Regions from separate parts of the Homo sapiens genome. Here regions 2, 3, 4 and 5 are each linked to region 1. Evidence: fine-mapped expression QTL. A gene starts in region 1. Each other region holds a variant in brackets. All regions are shown on one strand. Distances are from middle to middle.

Region 1 (5,103 bases):
GGTTTACTAGATTTTTTTTTTAGGGGTAGCAGCTGCCTTTCTCAAAAGAAATTCTATAGAGAATCTCCCAATGTATAAAACATATCAAAGTAGAATTCTTGGGATGTGGAGGGAATGGGGTACCTGGATCCCACCTGCCAGTCTTTAGGCATTCATGAGGAACCCTTGAACCTGCTGAACCCTGTAAAAGGGCTTTAAGCAGAGAGTGAGATGACCCAATACACATTTTAGAAAGATGCCCGTGGCAGCTAGGTGGAGTTGACATTGGACAGGGATGAGATTAGGGGCAGGGAGCGAGTTTCAGGAGGCTATGAAAGTGGTCCAGACATGAGCTGATGAGGTCTAGACCCAGGGCAACAGCCTAAGGATGAAAAGCAGGTTGGATTCCAGAAACATTTCTGAGTTAGAATCAGCAGGAATTGGGGGTCAATTAGATATGAAGGATGAAGTCTGTGAGGGCTGGACTGCCTGGGCTGAAACATACCGTAAAGTGTGACAGCCATACAGGAGAGAAACTGCTGGGACAAAGGATAAGAGTTGAGTTTGGGGCCAGGCACAGTGGCTCATGCCTGTAATCCCAGGACTCTGAGACTGAGGTGGGCGGATCACCTGAGGTCAGGAGTTTGAGACCACCCTGGCCAACATGGTGAAATCCCATCTCTACTAAAAACACAAAAATTAGCTGGGCGTGGTGGTGGGCGCCTGTAATTCCAGCTACTTGGGAGGTTGAGGCAGGAGAATCACTTGAACCTGGGAGGCAGAGGTTGCAGTGAGCTGAGATTGCGCCACTGCTCCAGCCTGGGTGACAGAGCAAGACTGTCTCAAAAAAAAAGAGAGAGAGTTGAGTTTGGGATACATCATGTTATGGTGACTCTGGGACATGTAGCAGTTGATTGACCAGTAGACAGTTAAAAATGCAAGTCTGGATCTTCTCTCGTGGAAGAGAATGTTGGAGCTAGAAATTAAAATTGGGGAGTTACCAACTGATTGGTAGACACAAAAGACATGAAGTAGAGAATGTGCATACAAGAGAGAAAGAGGCCTGAATCAAGCACCTGGGTTTGCAACAATTTGATCTTTATTTAGCTTTTTCATTGGTGTGATTGTTATTACCATTATGAGATAATATTTTATTTTTAAAATTATTTTTATTTTTTTAAAGACGGAGTCACACTCTATCACACAGGCTGAAGTGCAATGGCGTGATCTTGGCTCACTGCAGCCTCAACCTCCCTGTGCTCAGGTGATCCTCCCACCTCAGCCTCCCAAATAGCTGGGACTACAGGTGCGTGCCACCAGGTCTGGCTAAGTTTTAAATTTTTTGTACATATGGAGTCTCAGTATGTTGCCCAGGCTGGTCTTGCACTCAGGCGGTCCACCTGCCTTGGTCTGCCAAAATGCTAGGATTACAAGCCTGAGCCTCTGTGCCCGGCCATGAGTGAATATTGTAGAAAGCAGAGACAATGTGCCAGATGTTTGGAGTGAAAAGGACTTGGCTCCTGTTCTCTTAGGATGGACAATGCTACACACAATCCCAAATCACAGGCTATAAGAGAGGTGACCCAATCCTGCAGGACAGTTCAACGTTTCAGATTTGAAGGGGAGTGAGAGAGATCAGAACTGGAGGCCCCTTGTCTGAGCCCCCGACTATGGTGGTCCACGTCACTCCACACGCAGCAGGCACTGTAAATATTTCACCTTCTCTAGACGACAGTAGTTCCTCGAGAACAGGAGCGCTGGGGTAATGCATATGAAGCTCTTAGCACAGTGTCTGGCGCTGCTTCAATGATGGCTATATGATCAATTATTCTTACTCCTTTGAATTCTTGGCAAGAGCTGGCAGGGAACTTTGTACACATCAGGTACAAAAAAACCCATCCGCGCAGTCTAAGATCAAGAAGCTCTTGGCACTCTCTGACAGTCCTCGACAAAGCAATTCCCCTTCTTTCTAACACAGGGTCCGTAAAGGAGATGATCCACAAGGACCGGCTGAGTGGATAAGAAGACAGACTGGCTGAGCGGCTGACCCTGCCAGACGACAGGCTGTGCCTCTTTACCACGGTGCTGCCGTTCCCAAAGTCGGCCTCAGCTTGGTCCTTGGCTGGAAGCTCGTAGCAAAGTTTCTGGGTCAGCAGACCTCATAGGCAAGGGGCCCCTAGCTGGCCGCCCCCAGCCCTGCCAAGGCACCAACGCAAGAAAGCCGGGGGAGCCTCGGTCGCATTGCTGGAAGATCGTCTAAACATCCCCGCTGCTCGGCCGCTAGGCCGGCAGGTGTTCGGGCCCCGCTCCCCCGGCCCGCCCCACCCCCGCGCCCGCGCCGCGCTTCCCTCTAAGAGGCCGGGTCTGAGTGAGCCTGTGCTGAGTCGCCGAGCAGCCCGCTCTCCATGTGACTTCAGTTTCCGTCCGTTCCTTCCGCTGGTGCTAAAATAATCTGATGCCCCACAGCAAGGAGGTAGCCCAGCCCCGCGTTCGGCTGCTCTCGAGGAGGCCGGAGCCCCCGGAGACGATGCGCCCCGCGCAGCCGCCTGCGCCTGCGGGAGCCGTGAGTATTTCCCGCGTGGGGGCGTCCCCGGGGCACAGCCGGGGCCCTTCTCCAGGTGGGCGAGCTCGAGCGAGGTTGGGTGGTAGGAGGTCAGCGTCCGCGGCCCGCAGCTCAGGGCTCACGAGGAAGCTGTGGCTTGCTGCGTCCAAGCGCCGCCGCTTTTGTGCTGGGCGTGGGGGCTGCAGCTCTGGGTGGAGGTGGAAATACCTCCCTCCAGGAGCACTTAGAGCTGAGAAAGGTGGTGCGACGTAGTGGAAACCACGAGGGCTTCAGATTCAGACGTGGGTTTGAGTCCTGGCTCTGCAGGGAGCATGTGAGCAGACAGTTAAGGTTTCTGAGCCTCAGTTTTCTCATCTGCAAAATGGGAACAGAGATGCTCCCTCCCTGGGCTGGGCGACTGGATATGATGAGACCGCTCTGTGCACACTCAGCATGCTGAGCACTGGGCTCTCCTTTCCTGTCCCACAACGTGGATTGAGAACCACTATCTCATAGATGAAGACACTAAGACTGGTTAACAGCAACACCTATCACAGATGCCGTCCACGTGCCAGGCCTGTCCAAGGCCCTGGGGATACAGCTGTGAAAATGTGCAAAGCCCCTTCTCCCACAGAACGTTTGTCCTTGGGAGATTCACTGGGGCTCTGTGACTTGGATCTTAGCCTAGACTTAGATCCATGGCTTATCAGAGGGAGACTAACAGGAGGGCGACGAAGACTCGGACGCTCTTCCGTAGCCCTCGTGGCCCCTGCATGTGGGCCGGCTTCTGAAGGGGTCAGCGTACTTCCCCACGTACCCAGGAGCTAGACGGAAAGAAGTAAGGAGCCACTGGTGTGGCTTTGTGCTGCCTCTGAGAGAAGGTGGACACGTGCCAGTTGGTGGCTGCGACTGGAGGAGGCCGGATCGGGGGTCCTAGGAATGGAGCCTCTCCGGACAGGGCTGGTCGGGGCTGCTGTGCTTCCCTAGGGGCTGAGGGGACCCCACCGGAGGCTTCTTCATGATGGGCACAGCCCGTTAGGAGTCTGGGTGCTAGAAACATTCAGCGTCTGTGGCCCTCCATGCTTTCCTGTGTGCTCCTCACCTGCCGGCTGTGACACACAGACTGTTCTGTGGATGCTGAGGGTTTGCTGGGCTTTACATTTACAATACGTATTTATTCTCCTCACACACCTCTTAGGTTTGTGTGTGTGTGCCCGAGAGTCCCTAAAGGAGATTATAGAATCATGGGCCCAGGAAAAAACCTTAACTCCTGCCTTTAGGTTAAAAAAACAAAACAAAACAAAACAAAACAAAACAAACTCAGCTTCACAAAGAAGGCACTTTTTAAAAATATATATATTTATTTATTTATTTTTAGAGACAGGCTCTTGCTCTGTTGCCCAGACTGGAGTTCTGTGGCACGATCACAGATCACTGCAGCCTCAAACTCTTGGGCTCAAATAATGCTCCTGCTTCAGTCACCTGAGGAGCTAGGACAACAGGTGCACACCACCATGCCAGCTAATTTTTAAAATTTTTTTGTAGACACAGGATCTTGCTGTGTTGCCCAGGCTGGTCTCAAACTCCTGGGCTCAAGCAATCCTCCTGCCTTGGCCTCCCAAAGTGCTGGGAGTGTGGGCGTGAGTCACCGCCCCCAGCTTTCATGTAATGAGTGCCCTCATGGGAACTTCATGAAAACACATTCTCTTATAGTTTTTAAATTCATCATCCAAGAGTTCCTGCTCTTTGATGATGAGACATACCTGGTAGACTCCAAAACAGAGAGCAGACGCCTAGTATCTTTGTTCTGGGGTGTGCATTAAGAGTACATTGACCTGTCTGTCTCCAGTCTTGACTCTTTTGGAAGAGAGATGCTAGTACTGATGACAACCTGCATTCTGGCTGCGGTGTGCGTCCACACTGCACAGTGTGCACCAGACTCTCGTATGGACAATGACTGTCCCTCACATCAGGCGCAGATCCATTTTAGAGCCTCAGAAGTCAGGAGAGGGTGGACTTTCAACCACGACTGAAAACACTGTCTTTCTTAGGACATGCTGTGTGTATGACACACTTACAGATGTCTGTGCTCACTGATGCTTGTTGATGTGTCATCGCACATCAGTGACAAACATTTGTCATGTTTTTGCCTTTGGTGGAACTTCTTTATTATACTCACTTTCCTCCCAAACCATTTTTCTCAACTTCATCATGAAGCAAATGTCATGTGGTCATTCTGTGATGGGGCTCAGGGCTAGGTTAGGTGATGATTTCTGAAAGCTCAGAGACGTGAAGGAAAAAGGACATCAGTGCTTGGATCTTAGCTCTTATAAGCCTCACGTGCAACAATAAACCCGAGTTCAAGAATCAGATTCTTAGATAGATTGGTTTGGTAGCAAATGACAAAAAACCAACGTAAATATGCTTCGGCAAAAAAGAAAAAAAAAAAGGATTTATTGTTTCAAATAACTGAAAAGTGTATGGGCAATAGTTTCAGGCATGGCTGAGTCCAGATGCTCAAATGGCATTGCCAGGAATCCATCTGTCTCCTTTCCTCAGCTTTGCCTTCCTCTCTGTGGGCC
Region 2 (5,103 bases), 48 kb after region 1:
TTTAATGTATGGCCCAAGACAATTCTTCTTTTAATGTGGGGAGAAAAAAGATTGGACACCCCTACCCTAGAGGAATGATAGTGTTTAGTATTTGTTTTCATTCTTATTTTCCTTCTCCTCTATATCGCATGGATTGTGGAGCGTGTCCATGTCTTCAGGTCATCAGCATGACTTTTAGGGGAGGTGACTACAGAGTCAAAGCCATGGGAGATGCGGAATTCAGCTGAAGATCACTTAAACATCCAGCACCGCTGTAGCACTAGTCATAGAAAGAATATGAAGAGAATTCAAGATTAAACAGATTGGCCAGGCGCGGTGGCTCAGGCCTGTAATCCCAGCACTTTGGGAGGCCGAGGCAGGCGGATCACCTGAGGTCAGGAGTTAGAAACCAGCCTGGCCAACATGGTGAAACCCATCTCTATTAAAAGTACAAAAAATTTAGCCGGGTGTGGTGGCACATGCCTGTAATCCCAGCTACTCGGGAGGCTGAGGCAGGAGAATCGCTTGAACCCGGGAGGCAGAGGTTGCAGTGAGCCGAGATTGTGCCACTGCACTCCAGCCTGGACGACAGATCAAGACTCTGTCTGGAAAAAAAAAAAAAAAAGATTGAGCAAAGCAGTCAATAGATTAATTGGATTTAATTAAGTGATGAAAGAATTGAGTAATGGAACTTCACCCATTCTAACCATGTGATAAAGTAGAAAAGGTTCAAAGATTTAGTAGGGGTTTAAAATGAGTTTAAGAGAATGGGATTACAATTCCAATCCCATTGGTAAGACAAATTTTATTTCTAAAAATTCATGTATTTCCCCCCTTTATACAACTGCAAATGCGAGTTTGGAGCTAGAGTGGGAGAGGAAAGCAAAGAATGAAGGGAAAGAAATAGGAGGAAGATTCTAGAAATGGGGGCAGCATGGGAGAAGTGGTGGGAGCAAAGTCCTGGCATATAGATGCCACAATCAAAACTTCTGCCCTGTTTCCTAGCTGCTTGGTGTCAGCACTGGGGCCATTCCCCCAGCCTGTGACCTTGGCATCCCCTATGTTGACCTGGGCTCTTCCTCTGTCCTTCCACCTGGATGTCCTTTAGTGGGTCCTGGCCAGGGTCCTATTGCTCCCTTTAACCTCTGGAGCTTTTGTCTGCTACATTTTCTTACACTGATGCTGACTCAGACCTAATGCTGGGTGAAGTTGTGATGTGGCTGAAGTGTCTGGGTGTAATTCAAGAATCCTCGAGGGAGAATCAGGAGTTTTGGGTTCCGGTTCCAACTTGGTAATTTACCAAGTCACAGCCTCCTGGAGCCTGGTTTTCCCTATCAATAAAATGAAGAAATCTGTCTTCTCTAGTTCATAAGTTGTCAAGATCAAATGTGTAAATACATAGGAAGTTCTTAGGAAAGGGAAGGCTTCTATCACTGTAAAGAAGTATCATTGATAACTAGTATATGATAGTCTGCTGCCGTCTGCCTTCCCCATATGTACCCTATCATGCTCTGAGTCCCTCCTTCCTGCCTTTTCCCCATCTCTTATCACAACCTGCTTTTTGTATGTGATTGCTATTTACACCTTGATAATATTAAATCAGAGATATACACAATTAAATTTGAGATAGTTACGCCTTGTCCAGAAATATTCACATATTAAGCTTGATCGCTATTTGGGTGGTAAAAAGTTAGTCCTTGTTCAAGAAATGTTAACCAACAGTTTGGGGTAGGAGGGAGAAGTGAGGCTTTCCTTGTGTTCTGAAATCACTATATTTCATGCCTGAATTAGCCTGTCTGAGCTGGAATTCAGAGTGAATCTTTGGATCCATGTTTTAAAGGGACAACTATAGAGACTCCCATTGCTTTTTCTATGCACATAGTTTTTGTGCGGTTTTTACTGGAATCTTATTACAGTTACAGTTACCATCCCATGGACCAACATGGTCCATCGAGGGCCTTGCAGTGAGAGGGTCAGTCCATAGATGCTGGAGCCACATGACGTGGGTTCAAATTTCAACTCTCCCACTTATTAGTGTGTGACCTTGGACAGGCTGCTTCACTGCTCCGGCCCTCAGTTTTCTAATTTGCAAAATGGGGGAGATTAATAATACCTATCTCCAGAGGTTTGTTGGGAGGATTAAATAATAGGCCTAAAACACCTAGAGCAGTGTCTGGCACTGAGTACACATTAGCTGGAATTTATTTCAATTGCATGTTTGAAAAAATTTAAACCATTCAGAAATTTAATTTTAAAAATAAAAAATGAAAAGTCACTTAAGCTCTCTATCTCCCACTTTAACCCCACTCCTCTTTCCACAGGCAAACTGTTAACAGTCACTTTGCACACATCATTCAAGAGTTTTGTTTTGTTTTTGTTTTTGTTTTGAGACTGAGTTTTGCTCTTGTTGCCCAGGCTGGAGTGCAATGGTGTGATCTCGGCTCACTGCAACCTCTGCCTCCCAGGCTCAAGCGATTCTCCTGCCTCAGCCTCCCGAGTAGCTGGGATTAAAGGCATGCGCCACCACGCCCGGCTAAATTTTGTATTTTTAGTAGAGATGGGGTTTCTACATGTTGGTTAGGCTGGTCTCAAACTCCTGCCCTCAGGTGATCCGCCCGCCTCGGCCTCCCAAAGTCCTGGGATCACAGGTGTGAGCCACTGCACCTGGCCTCATTCAAGAGTTTTTACTGATATATTTTTTAAATCAAAGAATTATAATATACTATTTGGCAACTTGTTTTCCTCACTTAACCATGTAGCTAGGAGTTATTTCCAGGTCACTATGCCCAGTGCTACCTTCTTCTGCCTAAGGGTTTCATAGTATGCCGCAGCATGGACACTGCGCAATTCACTTAACCAATGTCTTATTGATGGATATTTGGAGTGTTTCCAGTTTTCGATATTTGGAGTGTTTCCAGTTTTCCACGATCATATTCGCTTTTTGCACATTCTTTTCTCTTTATAATTCAGAACCATCAAGCTGAAGCCCAGCAGGGCTTCCTCATTTCATCATCATAGCTCATTTCCTATTGAGCAAAGCTTCTTCCTCGGGTCAGCTCTTGCCACACTTCTTTCTACAGAAACAA[G/C]AAGTGGAGTTATCTGTCCTGGGCTTCGGGAGTGAACACACCCATTCCCACGCTGCTGCTGCCCACGCTGCTTTGCCCACACAGCACCACTGTCCCTGGGGATCCTGAATAACAATCTGCTGAGCAAAATCAACATCCCTTTGGCTACAGCGAGGCTAATTGCACTTAATAGGTTGTAAGAGTTCTGGTACAGACAGGCTCCTTCCCATGATGTATTTCACCACCTCATTGAAGAGATGTGTGTTCCAGTGAGAGTCTGTTCCTCCGTGTCATCCCAACAAATGCTCCTATGTCCAGGAGCCATTGTCAGGAATGCTCGTTCCTCTCCCTTCTACACAGACAAATCTCCCTTTGAGGACACACTCAACTCCAACTCCTTTTGTGAAGCTTTCCCTGTTGCTCCAGCCTGCATGAATCCTTCCCTCCGCCGAATTTCTTCAGCAAGAATGCCTTCTAGGCCAGGCACGGTGGCTCATGCCTGTAATCCCAGCACTTTGGGAGGCCGAGGCGGGCAGATCACCTGAGGTCGGGAGTTCGAGACCAGCCTGACCAACATGGAGAAACCCTGTCTCTACTAAAATACAAAATTAGCTGGGTGTGGTGGTGTGTGCCTATAATCCTAGCTACTCAGGAGGCTGAGGCAGGAGAATCACTTGAACCCGGGAGGCGGAGGCGGAGGTTGTGGTGAGCTGAGATGGCGCCACTGCACTCCAGCCTGGGCAACAAGAGCGAAACTCCATCTGAAAAAAAAAAAAAAAAAAAAAAAAAGAATGCCTTCTAAGTGCATAGCACCTGTGTGAGGGTGAAACCCTGGCCCACAGAGCCAGTGGTCGTAGGATAGTTAAAATAGAAGGCCACAGTATATTGGGAGGCCAAGGCGGGCGGATCACGAGGTCAGGAGATCGAGACCATCCTGGCTAACATGGTGAAACCCCGTCTCTACTAAAAATACAAGAAATTAGCCGGGCGTGGTGGCGGGCGCCTGTAGTCCCAGCTACTCGGGAGGCTGAGGCAGGAGAATGGCGTGAACCTGGGAGGCGGGGCTTGCAGTGAGCAGAGATCGTGCCACTGCACTCCAGCCTGGGCGACAGAGCAAGACTCCGTCTCAAAAAAAAAAAAAAAAAGGCCATAGTATATCAGAATTCCATAGAAATAAGATTATTACAAAAAGCCTATAAGCAGAGAGACACTGGAATATACTGAAGCTAGTATGAGCAAAAGGGAATTGTGGGTTGGAACACCAATACCCACAGCAACAGTGAAGGAAAGCAAAAGCCTCGCACAGCGCTTCTCAAAGTGTGGTCTGGGGGCTTGTTAGAAATGCAATTTCTTGGCCAGGCGCAGTGGCTCACACCTGTAATCCCAGCACTTTGGGAGGCCAAGGCAGGCGGATCACCTGAGGTCAGGAGTTCAAGACCAGCCTGGCCAACACGGCAAAACCCTGTCCCTACTAAAAATATAAAAATTAGCCAGGCGTGGTGGCACACGTCTGTAATCCCAGCTACTCAGGAGGCTGAGACAGGATAATTGCTTAAACCTGGGAGGTGGGAGTTGCAGTGAGCTGAGATTGCGCCACTGCACTCCAGGCTGGGTGACAAGAGCGAGACTCTATCTCAAACAAATTAAAAAAAGAAAAAGGAAAATAAATGCAAATTCTTAGGCTCCACCCCAGACTTACTGAATCAGAAATTCTGGGGGTGGAACGCAGCAATCTGCGCTATCGTGAGTCCCACAGATGAGTCTGGTGCATGCTGAAGTCTAAGAACCACTAGCTTGAGTAGAGATTCAAAGTTTGGGTCTCTAGCACAGAAAGACTTTTGCAACAACGAGTCTCGGGAGGCGTAAAGCAAGCAGAGAGGACTGCAGCTGTTAAAAGTAGTCCTAAGAAGATTCTAGGTAGGAGAACTCAAGCGTGGGGAGCTGGGAAACCCCAGCTGGCAGGGAGGGGTCCTACCTGGCGAGCTGCCCCCCAAGGGCCTGCGCTGGTCAAGTGTCTCCCGAAGGGTCTGCCTGCGGGCAGGAGAAACACAGGTGTCCA
Region 3 (5,103 bases), 41 kb before region 1:
ACTACCTGCGCTGTCAGGGGCTGTGTCTGAGCAGGAGCTGGTTTGCTAAATCAAGGGCAAGAAGAGAAAGCTCAGGTCTTTTGGGTCTTGAAGAAACTGTACTTCTTACCTCGTCCTTCTCTTCTCTGTTTTAAGGGAGAGACTAAAGAATGGTGAGGTTTGAAACTCAGAGGAAAACCAGCTTGGTGATCTGTTTTTTGTTTAGCTGACACGAAATCATTCACACCCAGCAGCTCACTGCCTGCTTATTTTAAGCATGAAAAATGAGGGTAATAAGTTTCTCCCTCTCTTGTGGGAATTATGTTCATATCTTTCACTGGACTCCTTTCCTACACACCCAGAGCTTAATTTTGGTTACTTTTGGAATACTAAAATGAACTGAGGGTCCCAGCCTGGAAGGGAGTTTGGTGATGAGGTGAAATGAAGTATTTTAGGGCAAGGATGGCAACGGAATTCAAATCCTCTGCCGTGACACCCAAGTGAAATGCTCTGCTTCTCACAGAGTGACACTTAGAGCTGTGGGTTTTGAGACAGATAGAAAGGGATCTCTCTTGGTTTTTTGTTTGTTTTTTGAGATGGAGTTTCGCTGTTGTTGCCCGGGCTGGAGTGCGATGGCGCAATCTCGGCTCACTGCAACCTCTGCCTCCCAGGTTCAAGCGATTCTCCTGCCTCAGCCTCCCAAGTAGCTGGGATTACAGATGCCCGCCACCATGCCCAGCTAATTTTGTATTTTTAGTAGAAACAGGCTTTCTCCATGTTGGTCAGGCTGGTCTCAAACTCCCAACCTCAGGTGATCCACACGCCTTGGCTTCCCGAAATGCTGGGATTACAGGCGTGAGCCACTGCGCCTGGTTGAAAAGGATCTCTTGTAGGAAGATGGAACCCAGAGGGGCTTAAGAGGACCTACGCACCCGCAGGCCTCCTCTCCCTGCACAAAAACATAGGCGTCCCCTGATTTCATGACCAGTTGTCATGAAATCACACCCAAGTCCCTCACTTAGAAACCCCCACGATGAGTTAAACTATTCACTGGCCGGGCGTGGTGGCTCATGCCTGTAATCCCAACACTTTGGGAGGCTGAGACAGTTGGACTACCTGAGGTCAGGAGTTCGAAACCAGCCTGGCCAAGATGGCAAAACCCTGTCTCTACTAAAAATACAAAAATTAGCCGGGCATGGTGGTGGGCACCTGTAATCCCAGCTACTCAGGAGGCTGAGGAAGGAGAATCGCTTGAAGCTGGGAGGCGGAGGTTGCAGTGAGCCAAGATCGCACCACTGCACTCCAGCCCGGCCGACAGTGAGACTCAGTCTCAAAAAACAAAAACAAAAACAAAACAAAACAAAAAAACACCGTTGCCTGCAGCTTCCCTGCCCATAAAGAAACGCATGCTATAGTGAAGGAAAGTGGCACAGCCTTGTCTTCTATGCATCTGCCTTCCAAGACCTTATCAGAAGTGGCTGGTGCACAATTTATGATTGAGGTCTTCTTACCTCTTTTCCCATCATAATCATGACTAGCAGCAAGAATGGAACATGTAGAGCCCTAGTCTAGGCAATCAATATAGCACTCACATTCCTTTGACTCAGCCCCTCCTCCATGGAATATGCAGCGCGGGTACTGTTAGTGTGTCTGGAATTGGTGGGTTCTTGGTCTCACTGACTTCAAGACTGAAGCCGCGGACCCTCGCGGTGAGTGTTACAGCTCTTAAGGGCGCGCGTCTGGAGTTTGTTCCTTCTGATGTTCGGATGTGTTCGGAGTTTTTTCTTTCTGGTGGGCTGCAGACTTTCGCGGTGAGTGTTACAGCTCTTAAAGCGGCGCATCTGGAGTTGCTTGTTCCTCCCGCTGGGCTCGTGGTCTCACTGGCTTCAGGAGTGAAGCTGCAGACTTTTGTGGTGAGTGTTACAGCTCATAAAAAGCAGCGTGGACCCAGTGAGCAGCAGCAAGATTTATTGCAAAAAGCCAAAGAACAGAGCTTCCACACAATGGAAGGGGACCGGAACGGCTTGCCGCTGCTGGCTCGGGCAGCCTGCTTTTATTCTCTTATCTGGCCCCACCCACATCCTG[T/C]TGATTGGTAGAGCCTAGAGGCCTGTTTTGACAGGGCGCTGATTGGTGCGTTTACAATCCCTGAGCTAGATACAAAGGTTCTCCACGTCCCCATCAGATTAGTTAGATACGGAGTTTCCACACACAGGTTCTCCAAGGCCCCACCAGAGCAGCTAGATACAGAGTGTCGATTGGTGCACTCACAAACCCTGAGCTAGACACAGGGTGCTGATTGGTGTGTTTACAAACCTTGAGCTAGATACAGAGTGTGGATTGGTGTGTTTACAATCCCTGAGCTAGACATAAAGGTTCTCCACGTCCCCACCAGACTCAGGAGCCCAGCTGGCTTCGCCCAGTGGATCCCGCACTGGGGCTGCAGGTGGAGCTGCCTGCCAGTCCTGCGCGTGCGCCCGCACTCCTCAGCCCTTGGGTGGTCGATGGGACTGGGCATGGTGGAGCAGGGGGTGGCGCTCGTCGGGGAGGCCCGGGCCGCACAGGAGCCCACGGAGGGGGTGGGAAGCTCAGGCAGGGCGGGCTGCGGGTCCCGAGCCCTGCCGAGCGGGAAGGCAGCTAAGGCCCGGTGAGAAATCGAGCACATCGCTGGTGGGCTGGCACTGCTGGGGGACCCAGTACACCCTCCGCAGCCGCTGGCCCGGGTGCTAAGCCCCTCATTGCCCGGGGCCAGCAGGGCCCGCCAGCTGCTCCGAGTGCGGGGCCCGCCAAGCCCACGCCTACCCGGAATTCCAGCTGGCCCGCAAGCGCCGCACGCAGCCCCGGTTCCCGCTCGCGCCTCTCCCTCCACACCTCCCTGCAAGCTGAGGGAGCGGGCTCCGGTCTTGGCCAGCCCAGAAAGGGGCTCCCACAGTGCAGTGGGGGGCTGAAGGGCTCCTCAAGTGCCGCCAAAGTGGAAGCCCAGGCAGAGGCGGGCCGAGAGCAAGCGAGGGCTCTGAGGACTGCCAGCACGCTGTCACCTCTCATTAGGACTCTGCAGCGCGGGTACTGTTAGGACTCTGCAGCGCGGGTACTGTTAGGACTGGGTCCCTGCACTCCAGGTCTTCAGAGATGTTGTGCTTAATATTTCTGGGCACCTGCTATGTGTTTTATCTACATTACTTGATTTATTTATTAGAATATCTTGATGGTATTCACATTCGTGGAACACTGAGGCTCACAGACGATAAATAACTTGCTAAAGTCACACACCTTAAGTTTCAGAGTCTTGTTTCAGCCTAGATCTCTGACTCAAAACTTTGGTTACTTTCTCCTCAAGGGGGAGGCAGACGTGTCGCAGATAAACATCCAATAACAAGTAAGTGCTCTTGAAGAGATAAACATGAGTAGTGCTGGGGTGGCTGACTTGCCTGGAGAGTCAGTAGATACATTTTGACTGTTGTTTTATTTACCAGGACTGGAGAGGAAAATGGGAAGAACATATATTCTCTCTCTTCACAGCCAGCTCCTCTCTGCTCCTCTCCTCGCTTCTGTGAACAATTCCCTCAGCCTGTGTATGAATCATGATCACCATTCACTATAGAACCCTGACCTGTGTCCGGGTTGCCAGACATAATACAGGATGCCTGATGAAATTTCAGATCAATGAATAGTTTTTTAGTATACATACATACCCAATGTTGCATGAAATATAATGATACTAAAGAATTATTCGTGTTTAAAATTCAAATTTCACTGTGGGCACTGCATTTTTTCCCAATTTTCAAACTGTGGTACTGTACACATAATGTAAAATGTTTACCATCTTAACCAATTTCAAGTGTACAGTTAGTGGTACTAAATACATTCATGATGTGTGCAACCATCAGCACCATCCATCTCCAGAACTTTGTTTGTTTGCTTATTTGTTTAGTAGAGATGGGGTCTTGCTGTGTTGCCCAGGCTGGTCTCCTGCTCCGTGACTCAAGTGATCCTCTCGCCTCGGCCTCCCAAAGGCTGGGAATACAGGCGCAAGCCACCATGCCCGGCCTCTCGAGCTCTTTTATCTTGTAAAATTGAAACCTTATGTCTACTAAACAATAACTCTACATTCCCCCAACTCCCCAGTCCCCGGCAACCACCATGCTACTTTGTGTATCTGTGATTTTGACTCCTCTAAACACTGCAGATAAGTGGAATTACACAGTATTTGCCCTTTTGTGACTGGCTTATTTCACTTAGTGTAATATCCTCAAGGTTCATTCATATGTTGTAGGATGTGTCAGAATTTTTTTCCTCTGTAAGACTGAAGACTGTTCCATCGAGCCACGTTTTGCTTATCCATTCATTCGTTGATGGACTCTGGGTTGCTTCCACGCTGTAGCTGCTGTGAGGAACGCTGCTGTGAACACGGGTGTGCAAAGGTCTCTTTGAGGCTCTGCTTTCGGTTCTTGTGGGTCTATTCTCAGCAGTGGGATGCTGAATCATACAGCCATTCTCTGTTTTATTTTTCGAGGAACTGCCAGACTGTTTTCCAGGCTGGCTGCACATTTTACACTCCCACCAGCCGTGCACGAGGATTCCATTTCTCCACGTCCTCACCAACGCGTCTATCTGATGTTTTCGTTTTCCCAAATAGCCATCCTAAAGGGTGTGAGGTGAGGGCATTCTTTATTTGTATTTGCCAAATGTAGCGACCCTAAAGCCCAGCCAGAGACCTCTTGCCGGGCTCTGATGTCACACCTTGCCCATCTAACCCTTGCCTTTTCTGTGTCGCATCCTGGCCTGGACTCCTGGTCCTCTGGTCCTCACCCAGCCTCTCCTCATTTACTGCTGCCCATGCCTCAGTGTGAGACTGTGTCTGGGGCTCTCGTCACCTCTTCTTGCCTTGCTCCCTCTGAGAGCACCTCGCTGGCACCACACTGACAGGTTGGCACCATAGGCTGAGCCTGAATGTAGAAACTGGCAGAACATCAACTCAAAGGAAATGTCCCAAGAGGAGAAAATGTTGAGACAGCAAAAGTCTGTGGCCTAATCTCAGAGCACTCACAGTTATAGATCCCTGACACTTTGCAGGCCAGAAGAAGCTGAATTTTTAGTTATTTGATCCTTTCCCCAGTTAGGGTTCCA
Region 4 (5,103 bases), 24 kb after region 1:
CTTTCAAGATGTGATGCAGAGGCCAAGTCTGACGAATTGAAGTTTCAATTAAAATTTAATATGTTTCCATTCCTCATCGCCCACCCCACCCCCGCCCCCACCACCGCCCAAGTTCTTTTTCCATCATTATAATTCATCCTCATTATCTTGGTAAAATATTTATTAAGTGACTTTTTCAGAAATAAAAGGCAACGTGTCTCATAAATATTTTTTAAATTAAATGCAGCTTGTGTTTTTTTTTATTGTTCCTTGGTTTCCCTTGGATTATTTTGTAGTGTCCTCCCCTTGGTGACATCCATGGAGCCGAGGGTAGCAATTCAATGCAACCTACTGGAAAAAGAACTCCAAGAGCAGGTGCTAGAGATGGTGAGTCAGTGCCCTGGGGACTCAACAGGGACAAGGATTTCATAGCAGGACGACGACACAAGGATTTCATAGCAGGACGACGACAACAAAGCATTTCAAAGCACAGCTGGAGGGTCTGACATAAGATCATAAGATGAGGCCTCTCACCTGCTGCGTGACTGGCCACCGCCGTCAGAACGGTCCTGTGATCCTAGCACTTTGGGAGGCTGAGGCGGGTCACCTGAGGTCAGGAGTTCGAGACCAGCTTGGCGAACATGGTGAAACCCCGTCTCTACTAAAAATACAGAAATTAGCCGGGTGTGGTGGCGGGCGCCTGTAATCCCAGCTACTTGGGAGGCTGAGACAGGAGAATTGCTTGAACCCAGGAGGCGGAGGTTGCAGTGAACCGAGATCACACCACTGCACCCCAGCCTGGGCGATGGAGCAAGACCCCGTCTCAAAAAATAAACAAATAAATAAAATAATGGACCTCTAGCTGGGCCCTCTCCAGGTGCCCTGGCTTCATACCCGGAGTCTCTGGCAGACAGACATGACTCTTCCATGGAGAAACCAAGAGAATAATAACTGGCCCCGAGTTTATCCAGTCAGTAAGCCGACTGCCAGAGACAGTCCTCGTTCTGAAGGGAAGTAAAGAGGAATGCAGAAAGGAATGAATTCTGCTCACTTGTGAACCCTCCTAACTCTTCACAAAAAATTGCTTACAACTTCATAGCAGATGTTCAGTATCTGTATTCACTAGATTCTTAGCTTCCCTTCTCCCTCTGTTCAATGACTAACGAACAATGTCTGTGCTCCTCTCTGAGAGAAAAGATAACAAGGACACAGCCCCCGTCCTCTGGTAGTTTAGAATTTACACTGTCCTCAAAGTTTTTAATCCCTGCTTACTAAATCATAAAGGAATTAAACGCAATGGGGGAGGGATGGGGAGGGAGAGAGGCTAGAAATCCCACAAACTGATAGCTATTACCATGCAGACTAACTGTCAGCAGAAATATTTAGGCAAATCAAAGAGATAAAATCAGTGGTCTTACTCTGACACAGCAGAAACTTCCCTTGGATGCTCTACAGAGGTTTGAACAAGGCCATCTCAGGCCCCACATTCAGTAGCGTTAGCGGCAGGTCCTGTTAGGCTTTGCCATCTCAGGCCCCACATTCAGTAGCGTTAGCGGCAGGTCCTGTTGGGCTTTGCCCTTGCTATGACCCCACCGTTCCCTCCTGCACTGCGCCCAGCCTAGTGTCGTGGATGTCTCTCAGGTTGCCTTGAAGCCTTCCGGGCAAGTCCCATCAGCCAACGCAACATCAGACCAGACTCTCCTGATTTCCTCTCCCCATCAACAAAACCCTTCTCTGGGGTCCTGCTGTTTCCTAATGTGAACACTAGCTAATTAGACAAATGCATCTATCTGTGGCTGGTGCACTGACGGCTTCTCTTGAGTTAATGCGTCACCTCTGGTATCCATCAGTGTTCTTAGTCTCATGCAACTGAAGACGGTTCTGTCTGATTTAAGTAGCTTACGCATTTAGTAAGAGAATATTAGTAAGCTCTGGACTCT[C/T]GGGAAGGCTGAGGAACAGGCTTGGAAAATGGGCAGGAACAGAAGATGCTGTGTAGCAATTGGGACCAGCTGGTCTCGAACTCCTGACCTCAGCCCAAACCATGCCATGAGCAGTAACTGTGGGAGCATGGCTGCAGCCACCCCTGCCACCTTCTGCTGAAATAAATGCTCCCCAAATTCTGCTGCATCGCCAGCTCCTGACCGTGGTCATGTGCCCCTGCCCTGAGTACAAGAAGGACTGGCACGGCAATGCTGTACCCCTTGGCGAGGTGTCTATGGCAGAAGATAGGCTCCGTGTCCTCCAAATTCTTATGAGGGGGCAGAGTTCTTGAAACCTAAGAAAGGAAGTGAGACGTTGAGCAAACAAAATGAATGAAAAGTAAGTCCCGTATCCTTTTATGGCTGCATGTACATTTTATTTATTTATTTATTTATTTATTTATTTATTTATTTATTAGCCTGAGTCTCGCTTTGTTGCCCAGGCTGGAGTGCAGTGGCGTGATCTCTGCTCACTGCAACCTCTGCCTCCCAGGTTCAAGCGATTCTCCTGCCTCAGCCTCCTGAATAGCTGGGACTACAGGCGCCCGCCACCACACCCAGCTAATTTTTGTATTTTTAGTAGAGACACGGTTTCACCATGTTGGCCAGGCTGGTCTTGAACTCCTGGCCTCAGGGTGATCCGCCCACTGTGGCCTCCCAAAGTGTTGGGATTACAGGCGTGAGCCACCGCGCCCAGGCAGCGTGTACATTTTAGCAGGCAACTTCTGGAAGCAAATTCTTAGCACAAAGAAATGACTCAAATGATGGAAACTTCAGACAGAAACTCAGGGCAGTCGGGGAGATAGTTTGGGGTTCAGCAGGACTTTTGAAGCCCCTCAAGTCACACCATGTAGCTGACCACCCACTCTTTCTGTTCTTGGGGTCCAGCCCGGGAGGATGACAAATTGAGCCCCAGCCCTGCCTGTGACTGTGACTTTAGAAGGCTGTGGGCTTTCCTTCCTAGTGTTTTCCATCACAAGGATCCAAAGGTGATTTCCTGCCGGGTGCGGTGGCTCATGCCTATAATCCCAGCACTTTGGGAAGCTGAGGTGGGTGGATCACCTGAGGTCAGGAGTTCGAGACCCGCCTGGCCAATATGGTGAAACCCCATCTCTACTAAAAATACAAAAATTAGCTGGGCGTGGTGGCGTGTGCCTGTAGTCCCAGCTACTCGGGAGGCTGAGGCAGGAGAATCGCTTGAACCTGGGAGGCGGAGGTTGCAGTGAGCAGAGATGGCGCCACTGTAGTCCAGCCTGGTCGACAAGACAAAATTCCGTCTCAAAAAAAAAAGGATGATTTTCTAGGTTTCTCTCAGTATGCGGAAAGTTACATAGGGAAGGTGCTTTCTGCCTTCAGTGCTCAGCTATGGTTCCCCCAGCAAATTCTGTCCCCTTTCCCTGCTTCTCCCACTCCGACCTGGACCCATAGGAGAACCTACTGGCGAGGGAAGGACCCACAAAGCCTGTTACCAGAGTTCTTCGGTGGGGCCAGAATGGTGTCTGCCTAAGAGCTCCCATTCAGCCAGGTGGGGCACCACGTGGTTCTTCCTCAGTGGGTGGGCAGTAGGGGGCCATTTCCGGTTGCCACATGCCAGAATATTCACACAGGAGGATATTCAGAATCACAGATAAATCATGTCAGAGACTGGTCTGTGAACATGAGTAACAGTAACTTAGATTTTGGAAATCCAGTCATAAAACAAAAGCTGAAGGTTTTTCTGGAGGCATTTAAGTTAGGGATCAATTGATTTTTTTCCGTTCTTTCTTTTTTTGAGATGGAGTCTTGCTCTGTCACCCAGGCTGGAGTGCAATGGCGCAATCTCGGCTCACTGCAAACTCCGCCTCCCGGGTTCAAGCGATTCTCCTGCCTCAGCCTCCTGAGTAGCTGGGATGACAGGTGCCTGCCACCACGCCCAGCTAATTTTTGTATTTTTAGTAGAGATGGGGTTTCACCATGTTGGCCAGGCCGGCCTCGAACTCCTGACCTTGTGATCCGCCCGCCTCGGCCTCCCACAGTGCTGGGATGACAGGCTGAGCCACGGCGCCTGCTGATTTCTTTTTTTAAACGACCCCAGTTGCAAGCAATTGGACAAACTCTAATCCTTGGTTTGTATCACTGGTCATATCACTTTTTATTTATTTAATGTGCCAGATAACTTCCATTTGCCCCTCCAGATCTACTTCCCACTCTTTTCCACCCTGCCCCAGGAGGCTGGCCTCAATGGGCTCCCTTGCCCTTTGGCTTCCAGTGGTATTTGGCTAAGAAGGAGGTTTGGCAAATCACAGGGGAGGAAGAAAGTGAGGTCAGAGTATTTATTCTCCTGACTCCTCCCTGTAGATTTGTCTCAAACTGGCTGCACCTATCAACCAAACTCACACTCGTCTCAAGGCGGCTCTTTGCACACGAATCTCTGCCTTAGGTATCTAGGAACCACTCACTCCCCTGGCTCTCTTCTCTGGGCCTAGCATGGGTAACAGCTCTGCCTCACCAGCTCGTGTAATTGCATTATCCTTTGCGGTTTGCCCTCCCCTCTCCACCGCTTTGTGAATCGTCCCTTTGTAAATCCTCCTGACTTGTCCTTGTTTGAACGTGCCATCTGGTTCCTGCTGGGTCCCTGCATGACGCAGCTGGCTACTCATTTAGTAATCCTGAGCCCGAGAGATTCCAGCACTTGTGTCAGGGAGCCACAGAGTGCTAAGGATGCGCGGCCAGCGCTAGGAAAGCAAATCTCCCGAAGATGGAGTCCCCTGATTTCCATGGAGTCCATGCGTGGACATGAGGAAGAAGGTGGACATGAGGAAGATGGCACGCCTCAGTGTGTTACAAACATATTCATATTTTACCCAAATTAGAGTGGGAGAAGTTTCCAGCCTTGGAGACCTTCTTTAAAAGAGTGTGGGTGTTGCAATGACCAAAGCAAACAGATGATGGAGCTGGGGAAAAAAAAAGTGTTATTTAAAAAAATCCTTCTCGGCCGGGTGCAGTGGCTCATGCCTATAATCCCAGCACTCTGGAAGGCTGAAGCAGGCGGATCACCTGAGGTCAGGAGTTTGAGACCAGCCTGCCCAACATGGCGAAACCCCGTCTCCACTAAAAATACAAAAAATTACCCGGCGTGGTGGCACATGCCTGTAATCCCAGCTAC
Region 5 (5,103 bases), 49 kb before region 1:
GGAAGCCTTTATTAGGAACAGCCCACACCCAGCCCAAATGCTGTCCTCAAAAACATTCCTCAGTTTCTCTAGCTGAATGTAATCTCTCCTTGAAATTTCCCTAGTTTTATATATCTATAGTTGACTCATGCTGTATTTATTTATACCTTGTTTAAAATTATTTATTGATTATTTATTGGTGTCATATCGCCCCTAAACTGGGACAGGATCTCTAACGGACTCATCTTTGTGCCACAACATGTAAGCCCAATAGGCAGGTGCTCACATATTTGCTGAAGGAACAGAGAAAGAACTGCGGAGAAAGACAAAAGCTCCTCTGAAGTTTTAGACTATAGAAGCAAAAATTATAGTAGCAAAAGATGAATGAGAAATTCTGTTCTAGTCCCAGTGAAGCAGGAAGGAAAGGGTTGCAAACTTGAGGCTGGTAAGGAAGAAATAATTACTGTGAATGCATTTAGCCACTCCCCTCTACTCAAAAATACTGGTAAACTCTGATTTTTATATTTGTTTAGAATTTAAATTAGAATTCTGTATCTTTATTTTTTGGAATTCTGTTGTTTTGCCTTAGTTTCTTAATAAAAAGTTAAACATTAACCACCTGTGATTGCTTACATTTAAAGACATTTTTTACACATTGGTTAGAAAGAAAAATTGGGGTGCCTTAATAGCCAGAGGTGGTGATGGAATTTACCTATAAATTCCATGGCTTTAATAATAGAATCCACATTCCCCATGTTTAGAATGGAAAGTGGACAGAGAACAGTAATTCACTAGGGTCTTATTTCCCAATTGCCTCTACCGCCCCCCACCCCACCCTCCTGCTGACATTTGTTTGATAATGCAGTTGTTTGCCAAGAATTATGAGAGACAGGCATGCTATTCCTGAACTGGCTGAATACACGGCTCCTGTGATCCAAAAGCTTAAAAGAGAATCAGTTGATGATGTTGCTAAACAAGTTGGCTGATATGTTAAAGTTCAAAGCATTTTAATTTTTTTTTTTTTTTTTTTTTTTTTTTTTTTTTTTTTTTTTTTTTTGAGACAAAGTCTTGCTCTGTCACCCAGGCTGGAGAGCAGTTGATGTGCTCTCGGCTCATTGCAACCCCTGCCTCAGGTGATCCGTGTGCCTCGGCCTCCCAAAGTGCTGGGATTACAGGCATGAGCCACCGTGCCCAGCCCAAAGCATTTAAATTTTATAAAAGAAAAATAGGTGTAAATGTTCTGTATTTGCCGCTTTGTTTAGTGGAAAGAGACGCCAGAGACAGCTTTACCAGTCTGTTGTCCTGATTTCTTTTTTGGATCCTCCCTCGAACTGTTTGCTTCTTATTTAATGTGTTCACTAAAATACTGTTGAGAGCAACATGTTCTCTAGTCTTCAGAATAATAGTTTGCTGAAAGAAGTAGCCCTTTAAGATTTAAGATTGTTATTCAGCTTTTGTATGTAGGATTTCATGATGAGTGGCTCAAGAAGTAGGAATCATTTGGGGAGTTTCCTTAGGTCACCCTGTTGATAGTGTTTAATTTCTGTTTAAGGCAGGAAAACATTAAGAAAAGATTAGAGAAGTCAAGTCCTGTCTATGATATGATATGATACTTGTACACCATGTTATATTTCTGCCCCCTTTCCTGTATAAATAAAATGGGGATAAAATCAAGTAATGGTTTTGAGGTCATAGCTCCCTTAAGAAAGTCTCCCTGAAATAATGTATTAAAATTCTAGCGTCTCAAGTTAGATTCATTAGAGGCATATTGTAGTGGGAACAGACCAGATATCTTTGTTTATTTTAATATAGCTAACTTGTTCATATTCCCAACCCATGTTTAAAGAGCATATGATTGATCTGTGCCCCCTTGTTGGTCATCTTCACCTTGGAAGGAAAGGAGGCTTAAGGTTGCAATGAGAGTTGTTGATGACATCTCTAACCCCTCAGTAGGCCAAAGAGTGATGTAGTTCATGATCCAATTGCCCAGAA[T/C]AGCACGGACAGATGGTTACTTTGCTAAAAGACATGTTGGTAGCAAAGACACTGCTCTGAGCAGAGACTGGTGGCAAAGCCCAGCGCAATCCACCCTTCTGAGCACAGCCTACAGGAACTTCAGTGCCGACGGAGTCACGGAGGCCACTCTAGGTTTTACATGGCCATAGTTGAGCTTCTGAAATTTTGAAGGATCTCCCTGCCCACCCAGCTACTAGTCATCCACTTGGTAATGTAGACAGAATGAAAAAGGCAGGAAAGATCATTCATCAAATTATTTTCTAACATCCGTTATCTAGCAGGCTTTTACCAGGTACTAGAGATGGAAAGATGAGAAGGAAAAATCGAAGTTGCTGACAAGCTTCTGTGAAAGCAAATGTGGAAACAGACTACTGTGAAACTGAGGTAACTGCTTTAACGAAATTACAGGTGAGGTCCAGGGTGGCATAGGAGAGGGAATAGTTAACCTGGGGCGATGTTTAAGCTGAGCTTAGAAGATAGTAGGTGGGAGCTAATGAGGATAAATCCACTGTTCCAGGCAAGTGGGATAGGACGTGCTATGATACGGAGGCACAGATAGGTCCGCTATGTCTGGAACCATGCTGGACAAGTGGTGGGGGAGGGCATGGAACAGGGAAATTGCGTCTGGATTATAATTGCCATACCAAATAGTTTGGGTTTTGTCTATTTTTTCATGGGGGAAGCCATTCAAAAGTTTTCAGCAGGGGCATGATTAGCTACAAAAACCAATATCTGAAAGGTGGGAGTCAGGAGGTCTAGGCAGAAAATGATGAGGACCTAAACTAAGGTGACTAAAGATGGAGGAGGGATGTATTTAAGAGAATGCAGGAACACATGTGGACACCATTTGTATGTCAAGAGTGAGAAGCTTTTTGGTGCAGACATTTATAAGGTACTGCTTATTAAGAAAGGGTATTGAAAAGGAGGAATAGATTGGGAGGTGAGGGGCCGAGCGCAGTGGCTCACATCTGTCATCCCAGCACTTTGGGAGGCTGAGGTGGGCAGATCACCTGAGGCCAGGAGTTCGAGACCAGCCTGGCCAACGTGGTGAAACCCCGCCTCTACTAAAAATACAAAAATTAGTCGGTTGTGGTGGCAGGTGCCTGTAATCCCAGCTACTCGGGAGGCTGAGGCAGGAGAATGGCGGGAACCCAGGAGGCGGAGCTTGCAGTGAGCCGAGATCGCGCCATTGCACTCCAGCCTGGGTGACAGAGCGAGACTCTGTCTCAAAAAAAAAGATTGGGGGGTGAGGGTAACGAGTGCGGTTTTGAACATGTTAAATCGGAGGTGGAAATACAGAAAAGGCAGTTGGAACTAGTGAGCCTGGAGTTAAGGAGATCGGCAGCCAGCTGGATGAGAGAGCTGCTGGTGTGCCGCGTTCCTCACTGGCCGTACGGGCTCCACAGCCCAGCGGGTAGAGCGAGGGAGGCGGGCCTGCAATACCCCCAAAGGACAACCAACTGCCTTCTAAACCGTGACTCTGCCAACTAAAGGCTGCGGGGGTGTTTTGTTGTTTCGGGATTTTTCTTTTCCTTACATACCCCACACCTCTGAATAACAATCCTAGCAGTTCAATTTTTTTTTTTTTTCTTGGAGACAGAGTCTCGCTCTGTCGCCCAGGCTGGAGTGCGGTGGTGTGATCTCGGCTCACTGCAACCTCCGCCTCCCGGGTTCCAGCCATTCTCCTGCCTCAGCCTCCCGAGTAGCTGGGATTACAGGCGCCCGCCACCACGCCCGGCTAATTTTTGTATTTTTAGGAGAGATGGAGTTTCACCGTGTTAGCCAGGATGGTCTTGATCTCTTGACCTCGTGATCTGCCCGCCTCGGCCTCCCAAAGTGCTGGGATTACAGGCGTGAGCCACCGCGCCCAGCCTCAGTTCAAAATTTTTAGGTGCCTCTTTTTAATTTTGGGAGAAGCTCAGCAATGTTCTATCATTTTGGTCTTGAGGCAAGACCACTGGATCAACAGCACAGGACTCATGCGGTCTAAGTCCTGGGGGCGCTGCTGGTCACGACGCGATTCCGGAGCAGATGTCTTCCTTCCTGGGGCTGTTGCTGAGGCTGACCTAGCTCAATGCTTCTCATTTTGGGATGCCCACTAGAATCACCTGGGGAGTTTTTTATTTCTTTAAATTAGCTTTATTGAGATAATAACTGACATCAAACAAGCTATACCTATTTACCAGTGCACAATTTGATAAGCTTTGATGTATGTATATATCCATCACAATCAAGATAGCCTATATGTGGGAAGCTTTTAAAAGATAAGATGCAGCCGGGCGCGGTGGCTCACGCCTGTAATCCCAGCACTTTGGGAGGCCGAGGCAGGCGGATCACCTGAGGTCGGGAGTTCGAGACCAGCCTGACCAGCATGGAGAAACCCCGTCTCTACTAAAAATACAAAAATTAGCCGGGTGTGGTGGCGCGTGCCTGTTATCCCAGCTACTCGGGAGACTGAGGCAGGAGAATCATTTGAACTCGGGAGGGGGAGGTTGCAGTGAGCTGAGATCCAGCCATTGCACTCCAGCCTGGGCAACAAGAGCAAAACTCCTTCTCAAATAAATAAATAAGATGCCCTAGCAAATTAAATTCCATGGAGTAGTAGAGTGGAGTTTTGTTTGTTTGTTTTTGTTGTTGGTTTTTTTTGAGACAGAGTCTCACTCTCTCCCAGGCTGGAGTGCAGTGGCCCGATCTCGGCTCACTGCAAGCTCCGCCTCCCGAGTTCACGCCATTCTCCTGCCTCAGCCTCCCAAGTAGCTGGGACTACAGGCGCCCGCCACCACGCCCAGCTAATTTTTTGCATTTTTAATAGAGACGGGGTTTCACCGTGTTAACCAGGATGGTCTCAATCTCCTCATCTCGTGATCCACCCCCCTCGGCCTCCCAAAGTGCTGGGATTACAGGTGTGAGCCAACGCACCCAGCCTTTTGTTTGTTTTTAAGTCTCCAGGTACTTCTCCCCTGAACTAGGAGACCACCATTCAGGAATGACATTTGAGCAGCCTCAAGTGGAGGCAAAAATCTCTGGTTTATTTTATGTTACGATTTGATTATTTTATTTTATTTTATTTATTTTATTTTTTGAGACGGAGTCTCACTCTGTTGCCTAGGC

Evidence for each region. PIP is the estimated chance that this variant, and not a neighbour inherited with it, causes the effect.
Region 2: its variant is fine-mapped to the expression of NRROS in whole blood (TOPMed, PIP above 0.99). The same link has a PIP of 0.9 or more in blood mononuclear cells and monocytes.
Region 3: its variant is fine-mapped to the expression of NRROS in whole blood (INTERVAL, PIP above 0.99).
Region 4: its variant is fine-mapped to the expression of NRROS in whole blood (TOPMed, PIP above 0.99).
Region 5: its variant is fine-mapped to the expression of NRROS in cerebellar hemisphere (GTEx, PIP above 0.99). The same link has a PIP of 0.9 or more in cerebellum.

The regions. Positions count from the first base shown.
Region 1 is chr3:196,637,334-196,642,436 of GRCh38, forward strand. It overlaps NRROS (negative regulator of reactive oxygen species), which reads left to right and starts at 2,361. Exons shown (of 3, transcript NM_198565.3): 1 at 2,361-2,542. RefSeq lists silencers at 1,998-2,427, 2,448-2,547 and enhancers at 2,998-3,117, 4,286-4,635, 4,656-4,715.
Region 2 is chr3:196,685,419-196,690,521 of GRCh38, forward strand. No RefSeq gene overlaps it. Among named protein-coding and RNA genes, the nearest start is that of CEP19, 24 kb to the right of the region's middle. The variant G/C (reference allele first, on the strand shown) is at 3,066.
Region 3 is chr3:196,596,581-196,601,683 of GRCh38, forward strand. No RefSeq gene overlaps it. Among named protein-coding and RNA genes, the nearest start is that of FBXO45, 30 kb to the left of the region's middle. The variant T/C (reference allele first, on the strand shown) is at 2,065.
Region 4 is chr3:196,661,784-196,666,886 of GRCh38, forward strand. It overlaps NRROS (negative regulator of reactive oxygen species), which reads left to right. Exons shown (of 3, transcript NM_198565.3): 3 at 1-221. Among named protein-coding and RNA genes, the nearest start is that of NRROS, 25 kb to the left of the region's middle. RefSeq lists enhancers at 3,644-4,306, 4,307-4,969, 4,970-5,103 and a silencer at 4,355-4,649. The variant C/T (reference allele first, on the strand shown) is at 1,920.
Region 5 is chr3:196,588,466-196,593,568 of GRCh38, forward strand. FBXO45 (F-box protein 45) reads left to right here. Exons shown (of 3, transcript NM_001105573.2): 3 at 1-594. Among named protein-coding and RNA genes, the nearest start is that of FBXO45, 22 kb to the left of the region's middle. The variant T/C (reference allele first, on the strand shown) is at 1,972.